Linked DNA regions of Homo sapiens: all the other regions are linked to region 1. The links come from fine-mapping of genetic effects on gene expression. A gene starts in region 1. Each other region holds a variant in brackets. All regions are shown on one strand. Distances are between the middles of the regions.

Region 1 (5,225 bases):
CTAAGAACAAGGTAGAAACTCTGAGTCAAGGTTAAGTAACCAATTCTGTGATCTTGGGCAACAAAACTGAGCATAGCACCCTGTGTTCTAAGATTTGAGCCCTAGATAAATAAAAGAGCATTAGCACATTGAAAAGGGTAGAAAGAAGTGACTTTACACACACACACACACACACACACACACACACACACACACTTACTTCACTCTTCATGCCCCTCTGTCTGCCTCCTGTTTATGGAAAAATCATGAGACAACTTGATGGATGTGTTATTTTTTTAATAGAAACCACATCACTTCATATGTTACAGCATGTAATTCAAGAGGTCCCCAGAAAGTTTTTTCATCTACAAAATAACAGAAAGGATAAGCACCCTCACCACCCAAGCCTTTGGTTCATTTTTTTTGGTTTTGATCTCTATTCTCTTACCACAATGACATGCTGCTTCCAGAATGGAACTCTGTCTTTAAGTTCTATACTAGTTAGGAGGCTAATCTATCAGCTTGCTTTAATAATGTAATGGATGTCCTAATTTAACTGAGGAACCTGGACAAGTCTTCCTTGATTTCAGCTTCATCCCAAGGCCCATGAATGTTTTCTTTAAAAAGCTGCAAGCGAATGAGGTAGAATGGACACAGACATGAGATAGACATCAGCAGAAGGGCAAAGAGTACGGCTCCCACAGCACTAATGGACAGTAGGCCTCCCACGGCTGAAAATGCAAAAAGCAGTGTGACCCCCACATAGCTCCGGGGAGTACATGCCTTTAGTTTCTTCTGCAACATGGGCCACAGGGCAAAAATCTGAATGGCAAATGTCACCATGATGAAGGCATGCAGGGACCGGGGAAGACGTGATGCCAAGCATACAGAAGCAAAGATGGCCATGTTCAAGGATAGTGTGCTGGATACAATGGCAGCATTGGCACCATAGTCAAAAAAGATGAGATGGCCTAACAGCATGAAGACTGACATGGCATAGATGGTGTCAGTGCTGACAGACTCTGTAAGGGTCTTCAGCACTGGTGAAAACCCATAAGTGAAAGTAATGAAGACTAGGGCACTCTTCAGGTCAGCCCACCGGGTCTGCCCACTCTTCTTCCGCCCTTCACCTCCATCAATGAGATCAAACAAAACATACCCAATCAGTGAAGAAGCCAGACCAGTCCCTAAAAGCCAATGGGGGGCCAGAAGACCCTCATCCATATACCACCAGATAACCACAAAAACACAAACACTGCACAGCTGCTGGATCACCACACTGGACTCAAATACCACAGCCCAATATTGGTATTTCCGAGCATGGATGTTTTTCCGGAGCTCTTCCAGGAATCGCCGGTCCACATAGTTATCAGGAAAGGGCTGTCGCTCATACAAGACCTTCTGCCACTTGACCTCCTTGGTGTTAGTCACAGGTTGAGCATACATTATCCTTTCATTCAAACTCAGGCCAGTTTAATCATCGCCCTCACAGAAGTCCAGGTGGTTCTTGTTCTTTATGAAGTTTTGAAATGAGACCTCCCTGGAAATTCCATGCTGTGTTGATGTTCTACCAACCTTTCCTTGTTTTCAAAGGCAGGGGCTAGGCCTACAATAGATGAATTTGTCTCTGAGGCAGGACAACACAGCCAAGTTCCTAGAAAAAGAGAGACTGTGAACCTACGAAAGTTGTGAAAGGTCAAGAGTAGTACTGAGATAAAGTCAAATCAACTCAGTTTACTAAAAGTCTGAGAAAAATGTATGTGGTAGTCACCTTATGGGACATTAAAACTGCATTTCAGATTTGAAAATTATAATTCCTTGAATAATAATAGACATCTGTTAGCTATCGCTTATTGAGTACCTACTATGTGCTAAGTGCCTTATGTATCTTCTTTCACTTAATCCTCACCACCTTGTAAGTTAGTATTAGTCCTGCTTTGGTAAAAAAGCTGAGATTCAAGATGCTTAAGTAACTTTGCCCTAAGGTAACAGAGCAGAGCCAGGATTCAAACCAAAGTCTTATCCCAAAGCCTGTGTCTCACATTGTATCTCCCTCTAAAGCAGTTCTTAACTCAGTGGTTCACATATCCCTTAGGTATATCACATTGCATGCTTATATCTGGATTTGTGTAAATTTATAGGGATAATATCCATAGTTTTTATTGGTTCTCAAAGGCATGTTATTTGTATTTTTTAAGTTACCAATCCAAAGACAATAGTAAGCTGCACCATACAGAAAGGTATGAGCTCTATAGTTTAACCAAAATCAAAGCCTCAAAGAAACTAGACTCTTCTTCCATTAGCTGAGCTTAGCATCCTTTAAAGAGCTATCAATCTACTCAAAACAAGGAAACTCTTGAGAGGATCGAAGAAGATAATCATTCCTTTTTCACAATGAGAAAACTAAGAGTCAGAAACACCACAGCCATCCGGCAAATTTGAGAAAAAAAAAATTCATATTGCCCGACTTTATTTCTTCCATGATAGACCACAACAAATATTGCTTGGCAAGCCAGACACCGTTACCCCCTCTGCAGCAGGGATCCCAGCCCGGGAATCTTAAGGCCGCCGCCGGGGTTGGAGGGTCTGCGACGCCCAAAAGGGCAGCGCCCGCCCGCAGAGTGGGGCTGGGAGGGGACGGGGTAGGGTAGGGTGACCCCAGGGTGCGCCTTCACTCTTCTGGCACCCCATTTGGCTTTTTGGGTGGGCCTCCCACTTCCGCCGCCGCCCCTCACTCAGCCTTGGGTCTGCGGGAGGCAGCAGAGGAAAAGGAGCCCCGGAAACACTGACCGTTACACGGAACCCACCTACCCGAGAGTTCCTAGGGTTGCGCAGCTGGGGGACGGCGGCACCCAGCCTTTTTCCCGCTTCGGGGCGCCGGGGCTGCGACTGTGGCCAAGCACTTCCGGGTCCGCCGCAATCTCCTTAGCGAGGGCACCCTTCCCCGGCTGGAACCATCGCGACGTGACTGCTGCCCCCTCCTGGCTGCTCGAAGGACCTCCGGTCTCCTCTCCTGGAGACTGGCCCAAACCCGAATGCTCTGAGCCTAGGAAGGCAAATCCCCAGCAATCCCCTATTGAAAGATGGGATGTGCCATCTGAAGGACTGGGTAAGGCAAGAGAGGACAAGGAAAGAGGCTGGGCCAGTAGGTGAGAGATAATGGCCGCTTTTGTTGCGCTCCTTTATTAAGTCAGGCCCTCAGCTGGGACTTCCCGTGCATCCATGCGTTCATTCCACAGATACTGATTGAATGCCTGCATGTAACAAGCCATGCTTGGGGTGCTCATGATACAGCCGTGAATGAAACACACAAAAATTGCTGCTCTCATGAAACTCTCTTTTTTGGTGCATTGACCTTTACACTGATTATATCATCTCCCCCCTCAAAGAGGACAAATCTAAGGCTCAGATAAGTTGTATTTGTCCAAAGACAGGCACCTGGGAAGTAGATGAACAGAGATCAATATCCAGTTGTCTATAGCTTCAAAGCTTGGTTTTTTTCCTCTTTACCTCCTAAAAGAAGTGAGGACAAGATTGCTAATTAAACTGAGTTCATGGAAATATTAAAGGATATATAAACAGAAGGAAGTAATAAAGAAACAAAGGGATGTAGTAAAACACAGGATACAGTGGAAATAAAAGTCAGAAAACATGACCCATTTACTAGCTCAGTGACTCAAGGCAAATCACACTACCTGAGCTTTGATTTCTTCATCAGTAAAATGGAGATGACATTATTTGCACTTGGCTACTTTATAGGATGGTTAAAGAGTTAAATATAAAAATGGTTTGTAAAGTGTTCACTATATGGCTGCTATTAGCTGACTTTGGCCATCGTAATGATAGCAATGTTTAAGTGTGATATATTCTGTAAAATGTTCTCTATTTCCCTCTAGGCTTCTGTTCCAAAATTTGACAAGATTCCTTGGCTTAGTGAGGCCAGCCTTGTAAACAAGCCATTAGTGCTCAGCCTTCCCAGAAGGTAACCTCTCAGCCACCGAGGGCAAAAGTTTTACGAAACATCTCACAGAAGATGATTTCTTCTTAAGGGATGGGGACAATTATCAGAGGGCACATTTGATCCATTGAGAAACTCAAGTCAAGTGCTTTAAAAATAGAAATAATCCGGGTTTCTCAGAAAAAAATGATCACTGAGTATAGGCCTGGCTAGAGGAGATGAGATCTCAAAATTTTTCCCTCTCCACCACTACCACTCAACAGTATAAGATAATTTTTCCCCTAGACACTGTCTCTCAAAACACTTCCATCCTCTTTCTCACCCCACATTTTCTCCACTGCTGTAGTCTGAAATTTTCACATTTTTACCATCAAAAGTCTAGAACAGTAAGTTCCCATCTTTATAGAATAGTAACTCTGTATGTAACTTTGAGGCACCCTCCTACATTCCTGTTAGTCCTACTCCTTCCAAACAAACTACTATATGACACATAAATCTATTTTTCAAAATTGCAGGAATTACATATCTAGGGAGCATTTCAACTGTCTCTTGAAATAATTGGGTTACCGTGTCCCTTCTCCATTTTTGATGAAATGGTTCCTAAGTGTAGTGATAAACCCCACTCTGGGAAGGGGACATGGACAGAAGGGTAGGTGTGAGGTAGTGTTGGGGTGAATGAGAGAAACCAGAAAGAGGGCAGAGAGAAAGAGAAAGGGCAGGCATAGAGGCCATTCCAAAGGCACACGACAGACTAAAAAGGAATGACTCCTTGGCATTCGAAACAGCTCGTTAGAAAAGCCAGACTCCCCAAAAAGAGTTTCTCCTCCTGTTGATAACTACCATGTACCCTCCTGCCCATGGATAAGTGACTTCATAAGCAAATTCCCATCACTGTCTCCACATCCCCACTTTAGTAACATGTACCTTTGCTTTGTCTACTGTACATTAAAAAAAAATCTCATTCTCAGTAAATAGGTAGACGGTTTTAGTATTTTCAGAACAAAATTCACAAGTGCTTTCAAGTGCTCGTTATTCAGTTGTGTTATTTTTACATAATTTTGAATATAACGAAAGCAGATTATCAGAGGTTCAATAAACTCAAAGGCCTATTTAAGAAACAAAAGTACTAAGTGATAGAGTGCTTATTAAGAGTTGTTAACACTGCATGGATCAGCACGAGTAAGGACAGTCTAGCATATTTTAATTGAGGGTGGGACACAAACTCACAGGCCCATGACAGTCAGATGAGGGGCATAATGAGTAAAGCTGGCCAAACAGGACTGCAATG
Region 2 (5,225 bases), 19 kb before region 1:
GTTGAAAGAAGCACTGAGGAAGATAAGAAAGACAATCTTGAATTGCTGACACCACCCCTCCCCCATCCCCTGGCAGCAGCCACATAGTGTGGAGAGAGAATCTGTGCACTTGGAGGGAGGGCACAGCGATTGTGGGACTCTAGAATTCAGTGCTGCCAATACGGGGCAGAACTTAGCTGTTGCCAATGGAGGGACCATTTAGACCACCCTTAGCCAGAGGAGAATTGCCCATCCCAGGTTTCAGAAACTGAGTTTTGACTACCTCCACCACCATGGGCTAAAGTGCTCTGAGGTCCTAAATAAACTTGAAAGCCTGTCTGGGCCACAACAACTGCAATACCCAGGCAAGTCCTAGTGCTGTGCTGGGCTCTGAGCCAGTGGACTGGGGAGCGCACGATCTAGTAAGACACCAGCCAGGATGGCTAAGTAAGTGCTTACAGCACCCCTCCCCCAACCCCAGGCAACACAGCTTATGGCTCCAAAAGGGACTCCTTCCTTTGCTTGAGGAGAGAAGAGGGAAGAGTGAAAAGGACTTTGTCTTGCAACTTGGATACCAGTTCAGCCAGAGTAGGATAGGGTACTGGGCAAAATCCTGAGGCACTCATTGCAGGCCCTAGCTCTTGGATGACATTTCTAGATATACCCTGGGCCAAAAGGGAACTGCCTTGAAGGGAAGGACCCAGTCTTGGCAGATTTCATCACATGCTGAATAAAGAGCCTTTGGACCCTGAAAAATCAGTAGCAGTAGCCAAGTACTACATACCGTGGGCCTCAGCTGAAACTCCGAAATGCACTGGCTTCAGATGTGACCCAGCACATTCACAGGTCTGGTGGCTACGAGGAGAGACCACTTCTGCTTGAGAAGAACAGAGGGAAGAATAAAGGGGACTCCGTCTTGAGCTTAGGTACCAGCTTAGCCACAGTGGGAAAGAGCACCAAGCCAGCTCTTTGGGTCCCTGATTCCAGTCCTTGGCTCTTGGATGGCATCTCTGGACCTATTCTAGGCCAGAGAGGAGCCCACTGCCCTGAAGGGTAAGTCACTTTCCTGGCAGCATCCAACACATGCTGGCAGAAGAGCCCTTGGGCCTTAAGTGAACATTGGCAGTATCCCAGCAGTACTCCTCATGGGCCTGTGGTGGTGTTGGACATGAGAAGAAACTCCTTTGCCTGGGGAAGAGCAGGAAAGGGTGGGAAGGACTTCAGTGGTTCGGGTGCCAGGTCAGCCACAGTAGAATACAAAACCAGGTAGATTTCTAAAGTTTCCAACTCCAGGCCCTGACTCCCAGACAGCGTCTCTGGACTCACCCAGGGCCCAGGGGAACTTGATTCCCTGAAGGAAAGGACACAGCCTTGCTGGTTTTACCACCTGCTGATTGTAGCGCCCTAGAGCCTTGAGCGAACATAGATGGTAGCCACGTAATAGTTACAGTGGGCCTTGGGCAAGACCCAGTGCTATGCTGGCTTCAGGTCTGACCCAGGGCAGTCCCAGTAGTGGTGGCCACAGGAGTGCTTATATCACCCCTCCCTTAGCTCCAGTCAACTCAGCACAGGAAGAGAGACTCTGTTTCTTTGGGAAAAAGTAAAGGAAGAGAACAAGAGTCTCTGCCTGGTAATCCAGAGAATTATTCTGGATATTATCTAGGACCACCAAGGTGGTACCTCTATGAGTCTGCAAGAGCCACAGCGTTACTGGGCTTGGGGTACCCCTTAATGCTGATATGGCTGCAGTGGCCAAAAACTTAGATCATAACACCCAAGTCCCTTCAAATACCTGGAAAACATTCCGAAGAAGGACAGGTACAAACAAGCCCAGACCAGACACTAACAAGCATCCACAAGCACAGGACCATCCAGGAAAACATGCCCTTACCAAACAAACTAAATAAGACATCAGTGACCAATACTGAAGAGACAGAGATAGTGACCTTTCAGACAAGGAATTCAAAATAGCTGTTTTGAGGAAATTCAAAAAAATTCAAGATAACACAGAGAGGGAGAATTCAGAATT[C/A]TATCAAATAAATTTAACAAAGAAATTGAAATAATTAAAAAGAATCAAGCAGAAATTCTGGAGTTGAAAAATGCCATTGACATACTGAAGGATGCATCCATCAGAGGCTGTTAGCAGAATTGATCAAGCAGAAGAAAGAATTAGTGAGCTTGAAGCCAGGCTGTTTGAAAATATATAGAGGGGACAAAAGAATAATTCCAAGTTGAACCATTGTATGTCAGGGACCATCTTTATATATTTTTGTTATTGTTTTTGATGCTACAAGTTACTATTGAATCTAAATACTGTCAACATATTAAGATCAGACTAGGTGGCAGGCTATTGGATGAGTCAACACTATAAACTCCTACTCCCATCCTCGGTTTTTAATCAAATCAAGTTTTATCATACATTATGTCACATCCCAATTTTCAGCCCCAGTTCACATCTTCAATGAACCTCATGAACATGAGCCATGGGTAGATAATAAAGAAAGCCTAAGCAAGCCGCAGAAGACCAAAGAGACTTAAGGATCTGCAAGGCAGTAACCAAGAAGTCACTAATGTGGGTTCTGCCTCTCAAAACAGCTACTAACAAAGTATTTTGATGTTCCACATAACATTATCAAAAAATTAGCCTCTCAGGCTTTTAGGGGTTATATTCCCTTCTCTTTTTTATTTTGTTTTTTGAGATGGAGTCTTGCTCTGTCACCCAGGCTGGAGTGCAGTGGCACGATCCCGGCTCACTGCCACCTCTGCCTCCCGGGTTCGAGAGATTCTCATGCCTCAGCCTCCAGAGTAGCTGGGACTACAGGTGCCTGCCACCACACCCGGCTAATTTTTGTATTTTTAGTAGAGATGGGGTTTCACAATGTTGGCCAGGCTGGTCTTAAACTCCTGACCTCAAGTGATCTGCCCACCTCAGTCTCCCAAAGTGTTGGGTTTACAGGTGTGAGCCACCGTGCCCGGCCTCCTTGTTCTTATCTCTGAGGGTACATTCAGAAGGCAATGGAGAGCAAGTTAGAGTCAAAGAGATGATTCCTTCTGCCTCTTTTTTTTTCTTTTAATGACAAAAATATTCTCAGCTACATCCACAAAATCTGCTCAATGTCTTAAAGATCTATTTATTTTGCAACTTAAAAAGAGTGTGAGGCCCACAGTGTTCTCACTGACCAGAGTTCAAATGTCACTCGGGCCCAGCACAAGGCCACAGGGCCAGCCTGGAGTGGCAAGCAGTGAGCCAACAGAGCTTGTAAAGTAGAAGCAGCTCCTCTTGAGCCAGGTTTCGTGGGAGCCTGAGGGACCTCAGCATTGGTAAAATCAATTTGTTCCATCATCCTAGTAGTATTATGGTCAAAGAATTACAGAGCTAGTCTGTTTAGGACAGAAGACCTTAGGATCATACTGGATGTTACTTGATTCTCAATGCCAGTTGGTTCCATTTGGTGGCAGAAAAGGCCATTTGTCTTTCTAAGCCCTTTCCTTGGGTACTTTTACCCCAGCATTACCTGATGGGCATAAGGAGGCAGCACCAAATAGTGTTGCCAGACTTGTGGTGCTGAGCACATGCCAGCCAATTGGGAAATGGCTGCTTCCTGACTACCCCACCTCTGGGGAATTATCTCATTAATCACAGTAATATACCTGGAGGAAAATGATGTTTTAATTTTTTGATGATGGTTATTGTTCGTCAAGTTACACCAACATTGATGGCATCTGTGAGTTACGAAAGGAAAAAAAAGCAAAAAGTATAGGCGTGGTCTAAGCTAGCAGGCCCAACAAGCCTTCAGCTGTTTCTAATCTGCCTCTCCCCTGCAGCTGAGCCCTCTTGGTGGCCAAAGGAGTATGCCTTATCAGGCCCAACCTTCCACAGAATGTTGGTCAAACCCTGGCTCTCACCTAAGCTCTGATCACTTTGCCCAAAATCAAAATTTTTAGAGCACTACAATGACACTGCTTGCTATTAGAAGTTTGCACTGTTCTGAGGAGGTTTGTGATATTATCCCCAAAAGGTCCTTGTCAAAATGCACATAACCCAGAGAACTAGCACATTAATCCCATTAGTGAGCAATAATATGCTCATGAGGATGTGAAAAGGCCTACATTCTGAGAACACATCTCCTTCAAGGTGAAGAGGAAGCCCCCAAAATTCACCCCTCCCTACCCACCCACTCACACGCTCACTACTACTATCTGCCTTACACTTACTGGAACTTATGTCATTAACCTTTTATCCCAGCCTGTGTCAATCATCCAAGAACCCCTGGATTCTAGGCCACTCTCCACGCTAATTTCCATGCAGTTCTGTATGTTCCTATTCTGTCTTCCCATCTCTCCCAAATTTCTGTAACCCTTCCACTGTCTCCTCTATAATTCACTGCCCATGATCAACAAAATTCCCTGTATCTTCAACCTATTCTCTGGATATGCACTTCACAATCTTACTCTAACAAACCAGAGTTTCTCTGAAAGGACTGCCTCCCCTGCATCCTTTTCCAAAGGTGGCAGCTTGTCTCCCACAGCCCTCACACTGCTGAGCCTGAAGTGGGGTAGTTATCCTCATTTTTTGTTTTGTTTTCAGACCATTCTTCTTTCCTCCTCGCTAAAACCCCCAGCTTTGAACCTCATGGCATCAGATTACAGCACTATCTACATGACCCTATGTGTTGCTTTTAACTACCAATGCCCAATTCATTCTCCCTTATTTCTTGATGATTTTAGCTCCTGTTTCAATGTCACTCCCTCCAGTGATACTCCTGTTTTAATTCTTGGGGATTTTCATACGCTTCTTGGTAATCCACCCTCACCCTGCCTCTCATTTTCTTGACTTCACTCTTTCAATGGTCTTTTTTTTTTTCTTCTACTTGAGTGCTAAGTAGTGAGATCTTGCAATGATCTTGCTCTCCACTCTATCTCAGCTACTCATTTCCAAAATTAAAACCTTGTCTTTCCCCACTCTCTCATCTCTATATCCTATCTTTCTAGCCTACTTCTATTGTTTTAATCTCTTGGATCTCCAATCTATTCACCTTTATGCTGTCCCTCAGCCCTCTGTCCTTCACCCTTCTTGAGGTTCACTCTCCTTACCCAACTTAAATTGAATGGTCAATCATTGTCATCATGCCCATGCATATATACCTGTCTCCCTTGCCCTTCTCTCAATTTGTTAAAACCACCATTCTGGGTAAATCTAACTCTCTACCTACTCTGGTTTGCACCCATGTAACTGTACATGGTCT
Region 3 (5,225 bases), 52 kb after region 1:
AATATAAAAATTAGCCAGGCGTGGTTGTGGGCACCTGTAATCCCACCTACTTGGGAGGCTGAGGCAGGAGAATTGCTTGAACCTGGGAGGTGGAGGTTGCAATGAGCTGAGATTGCACCATTGCACTCTAGCCTGGGTGACAAGAACAAAACTCCATCTCAAATAAATAAATAAATAAATAAAATAAAGAAAGTTGTTTCTCATGCCTAGGTGAAATCAACCTCTTTATGCTTCCACTCTTCTACTTCTCCCCTGTAGTAATAATACAGAGCCAGCCACTCCCCTCCAGTAACAACAAATTTTCAAATATTTGAAGACAACCAATCTATCTTCCTTTAGTTATTTCTTCTTGAATGCTAGAAAGATCACCCACTTTGCTATGCCAGATCTCTCAGCTAGTTTTAATGTTTGTGGGAAAAAAAAGAACTTGTCCCAGGGATGAGATTTCCTTGTACTGTCTTGCTGAATCTGGCCTCCATTGCTCACTGAAGGGTGATGCTTGGGTAGAGCCAAATTTTATTCCAAAATAAGGGTGTAGCTCTGGTCTGGCTTAACTTTGTAGGCTTAGAGTGTTTGGGACATGGGGGTAAGAGGGGATTCTCCCTGATGGTGGACACTTGAGCTTCCTAGCATCCTCAGGAAAAATGTATGAGCTTTCATAATAGATTACAACTCATGTTTTTGTTGTAGCCTGTTTCTGTACCATACAGGTTTTGCACAAACGTTCATTTAGAAGTTTATAAAGTCAGTAAAATCAGAACACTAAATTTAGTCTTAGATTGGAAAGGCAATAGACGGGACTGAAGCTCTGTCCCCAATGCCTTTCTTGATTTTTATATAATTTCAATAAGCATTGTCTCTCCTCCTCCTTTCACCCCAAGTTCCTATAACTGTGCTAAAATACAAAGGAAGCACCAAAAGCCTATATTCATGTTAAGAAGACTACGTGCACACAAAAGCAACAAAGGCAGAATCTGAAACATGTTGAACTATGGACAGACAGCAATCAGTCACCAAGGACAGCACTAAAATCATGGGGTCCTCTGCACCAGGTGTACGCATAGGTACTGTAGGGGCCAGAGATTCACTAAAAAAATCAACTCACAAAAGGCAGATTAATTGGAGAAAAGGCAGGTAAACTTATTTAACATGTATACTCAGGAGCCTTCAGACTGAAGACTGAAAGATAAAGGGGAAATGGTTCATTTTTATGCTTAGTTCAACAAAGTATGGAGAGCTGTGTAGAAATATGATTGGACAAAATAGGTATGATCTAATGCTAGCAGACTGAGTGGGGAAAACCAGCAAGGCCTCTCTGCCTGATTCTTCTTAGCCTCTGAGCATGCACTCCTTCCTTCTGAGTTTGGGGCAGAGCCCTCTCTGCAATCGGGGGTCTTATGACCTACAGTCAAACAAGGTAAGTCAGACAATTTCTTTATGGACAGTTTTTACGCAGAAAGAGGAAAAGTTAGAGTAATATTTTTAGTTTTTATGGCTAGCTTTAGGGAAAAAGCCCTCTGGTGTCCCTGACCCACCTTGGTGAAGAGGGATTCTGGTTTCTATGATTAGTCTCAGGGGAGAAAGCAGGCTGGGAGACAAGAGGGCAGCAGCAGGTCAAAGAAAACCTTTGGCTCCTGAGGCTGTTTCTGAGGCCTTCATTCTGGGGTATTGTTTTCTGAGCCCCAACTGTATCCTACCCAGGGCAAACTAATAGGCCTTCCAGACCCTGAACATTATCTTCATTGCCTGTCTCCTACCAAAAAGGGATCCTACTGATCTATAAATAGATGCCTTTTGAGGTATCCGTCCAGTTTGTAAACTTAAAATCCTAAGTTCTCCACCAACTGAACCCTCTCTTGGCCATGGGGACCCCAGAGAAATCTTAAAAACTTAGTTCCTGTCCATGACAGCAAGAAAGGTTGGACCTACCTTGTTATGCTCCCTCCCTTTTGGAGTTTAGGCACAACTGACCAGCATTACTGTTAAAACAGAGATCATAAGGCTAACAAAACAAGCTGGCAATAAGATACCAAAGTATACACAAGACTAAGGTCATAGAAGACAAGGGTTAAGTCATGCCTACAGACTATCAATCTGGCTACAGAGCTTCCTAATCTTAACTTAACACATTCCTTTTTATTGACTTCAAGTTGTAGATGGAACCTTACTCCTTTGACCAATTATAAATTAAAGCATCTCTAAATTCACCTGTAACCTATAAGCACCCCCCTTCCCACTTCAAGATATCTTGCCTTTTCAGATGGAACTAATGTATCTCTTCCACGTATTGATGTATGTCTTTCCTTTAACTCCTGCCTCCCTGAAATATATAAAACCAAAATGTAATCTGACTGCCTTGGGACCACTTACTCAAGGCTTCTTGGCTTTGTGTTTCTCCCTGGGCAGTCATCACTCATTTTGACTCAGAATAAACCCCTTTAAAATATTTTACATAATTTGGTTCTTCATTAACAAGTTGCACCCATATACTTTTTCCTCCTGGTTCCCTTATGACCAAGGATATAATTTGGGACTAACTGATGAGAGAAGAAAAGTCTGCAATGATGAGGACTGAGCAGTGGGTACAGAGAAGTATGTCTGCCAGCAGAATCCAAGCCACATCTTTAAGGCTCAGATTTAGGCCAGAATATAACTCACCCCTTGGAGGTGGCGAGTCCTATAACACCAGGCTTAGCCAGTCTATGGCATTGCTAATGCCCTCATCAGTATGGTAAAGGCTTGCTGGAAAGCTGGTCTTCCAGAGCATCTGCTCTGTCATCAGAATTGTTACCATGGGAGGAACTAGGTATCTAGAAAGGGATCAAGTGGATTATTGAGGCCTTCTGTGTAAGCCTGTGCTCTTCTGTCTCTGCTTAGAC[G/A]CACCTCTCATCTATCCATCACTCTGGACCAATTCACACTGGGCAGTCACCTCCCATTTGTTCACTCAATCCATTTACCCCTAGTTTAAGCTGGAACATGTCAAACATTTGTCACCCCAGGTTTTACCACTAACTAAGCAGAATGCCTCACAGTTTCTGCTTTTACTGTTCTCTGTGAGTGTGGGAATCAGGTCTTTGAGGAATGGAGGGTCCACAGAACTTAGCAGGATAGCAAAGGCTGGGTGGGAGTAAGGGAGGAGACCACCCCTCATATTGTCTTATGCCCAATTTCTGCCTCCAGAGAAAGAAAAAGTAAAAACTAAAAGACACAAATGAAATCCACAAGCAGACAGCCCGGCGCCACACCCTGGGCCTGGTAGTTAAAGATTGACCCCTGACCTAATCGGTTATGTTATCTATAGATTACAGACATTGTACAGAAAAGCACTGTGAAAATCCCTATCCTGTTTTGTTCTGATCTAATTACTGGTGCATGCAGCCCCCAGTCACATACCCCCTCCTTGCTCAATCGATCACCACCCTCTCACACGCACCCCCTTAGAGTTGTGAGCCCTTAAAAGGGACAGGAATTGCTCACTCAGGGAGCTCAGCTCTTGAGACAGGAGTCTTGTCGATGCCCCCAGCCAAATAAACCCCTTCCTTCTTCAACTTGGTGTCTGAGGAGTTTTGTCTGTGGCTTGTCCTGCTACAGAACAGTATGCACAAAATAGTTATCAGTGGAGATTTAGTGGTTGCCTATTATCTGCCTGGCACTGTGCTTGGCATTGGGAAATCAAATGAATAAGAAGCTTACAACTTCTTGTTGAATAGAAGAAGCAGACAACTAAACAAGCCATCATGAAATAATATGGTAAGAACAGGGGCTATTAGAGCATCTGGGATCAGCACCTAATCCAGCCCCGGTGAGAGATAAGGTTGGGAAAGGGAATCAAAGAACCATCTGGGGGAGGTGACATCCCAAGGGCATGGAAGATATTAGTTAATCCCAGGACATGGCAGGGTGTAGGAACAGACAGGAGGTTCAGCAGCCAGCATAACTGGTTAGAATTGAATGATGACTCTCTGCATATCAGAATGTTTTACTTATAGCTAGAAAGTTCTAAAGATTTAAACAGCAGTTTTTCACTCCTCTGATGGTATTTAATGATGGTGATTAAATACCAGTTAGTATTCACATTCAACCTAGGTTTACTTTAGAAAGCCTTCTGTCCTGATCTGGAAAAGAAAGCTTAAAATGTGTCAAGGTCAGAAAAAGCAATGCCCGGGTATCTATCCCCTACTCGCTAGCTCTGCTAGAAAAACAAAGGCCATCAGCAAGTGTCAACCATGCTGGAATGTGCTGGCGCAGCTCTGGGGCTCCGGGCATTTTCTCTCCTCTCCTTCTTTCCTCTTTTGGTCTAGTGAGCTTGCAAGCTGCCTGCATTCTTGTGAGCTGCCCCTGTCAGGTCTCATACAGGACTCCCTGCTTAACCAGGCAAACACACACGATTGCTTTCAAGCAGACTTCCTCCTGGATGCCTCCCCAATTCCCACTGCTCCACCCACACATGCCCTGGGGCCCTTAGAACTGTGGCAGCTCTCTGGAGACAGAAAGTCTGCAAGGGAGAAACCCTTCTCTTGTGGGAGAACTTAAATGGGGGAGAGGATATGAGATGTGATTGCTAGATCCTGTCCATAGGACTCAGATGGAAGTACAATGGTTCATCCTCTTAGAAAAATCCTTAAAGTTTTCAAAAGAAAGGAGAGGACCTTCCAATCTTTGCTTCCGTAGTAAGTGTAAATAACATTCTTACAAGCTCAAATTAAAATTTAGCATGGATTATATCATTTAATCTACACAATAATAAAGTGTTTACTATTATTATCCCTCGATGTGCCTCAATTCGTTCATCTGTAAATTGGGGATAATAGCACCTACCTCTTAGTCTTATAGGAATCAAAAAATTAATAGTAAATACATTGGAACTATGCCTAGTGCATAGTAAGCAGTCAAAAAATATCAATATGTGTTTTTGTGAGGAATCTGGAGCACAGAGAGGTTAAATAATTTGGCCAGGATCACACAGCTTGTAAAATAAGGCCAAGATTCAAACCCCGGTAGTTTGGCCCCAGAGCCTGCTCTCCTAATGGCAGCGTTATTTGCTGTGCTGCTCTGCTGCACAAAACAATTAAAGAGTAACAAGAAACCAGTGACTTTGGGTGGCTAGAGAGAAGCTGGGGAACCCCTTGAGTTTGTGTAAATGAGTGGTTCTCAAAATGTGCCCCCCTGGCAGCATCCTCCCCATTTCCTTAGGAACTTGTTATAAATGCAACTTCTCAGGCTAC

Which allele goes with the higher level. Positions count from the first base shown, and alleles are read on the strand shown. Sizes are in standard deviations (SD) of each study's normalised expression. Not every link is listed here.
For the expression in esophagus mucosa of the gene that starts at base 2,872 in region 1, G is the low allele of the variant in region 3 and A is the other (small effect, 0.20 SD a copy in GTEx).

The links. PIP is the estimated chance that this variant, and not a neighbour inherited with it, causes the effect.
Region 2: its variant is the best candidate, but not a certain one, in a credible set for the expression of PIGC in whole blood (INTERVAL, PIP 0.89).
Region 3: its variant is the best candidate, but not a certain one, in a credible set for the expression of PIGC in esophagus mucosa (GTEx, PIP 0.84).

Annotation. Positions count from the first base shown.
Region 1 is chr1:172,441,198-172,446,422 of GRCh38, forward strand. It overlaps PIGC (phosphatidylinositol glycan anchor biosynthesis class C), which reads right to left and starts at 2,872. Exons shown (of 2, transcript NM_153747.2): 1 at 2,791-2,872; 2 at 260-1,633. The coding sequence starts at 1,425. The coding sequence ends at 532. It overlaps C1orf105 (chromosome 1 open reading frame 105), which reads left to right. Exons shown (of 7, transcript NM_139240.4): 2 at 3,876-3,961. RefSeq lists enhancers at 2,704-3,227, 2,951-3,260.
Region 2 is chr1:172,421,734-172,426,958 of GRCh38, forward strand. All of the region lies in intron 1 of C1orf105 (chromosome 1 open reading frame 105), which reads left to right. It overlaps LOC102724528 (a long non-coding RNA gene), which reads right to left and starts at 1,623. Exons shown (of 3, transcript XR_001738294.3): 1 at 764-1,623. The variant C/A (reference allele first, on the strand shown) is at 2,009.
Region 3 is chr1:172,493,074-172,498,298 of GRCh38, forward strand. No RefSeq gene overlaps it. Among named protein-coding and RNA genes, the nearest start is that of SUCO, 37 kb to the right of the region's middle. RefSeq lists enhancers at 3,893-4,393, 4,394-4,894. The variant G/A (reference allele first, on the strand shown) is at 2,880.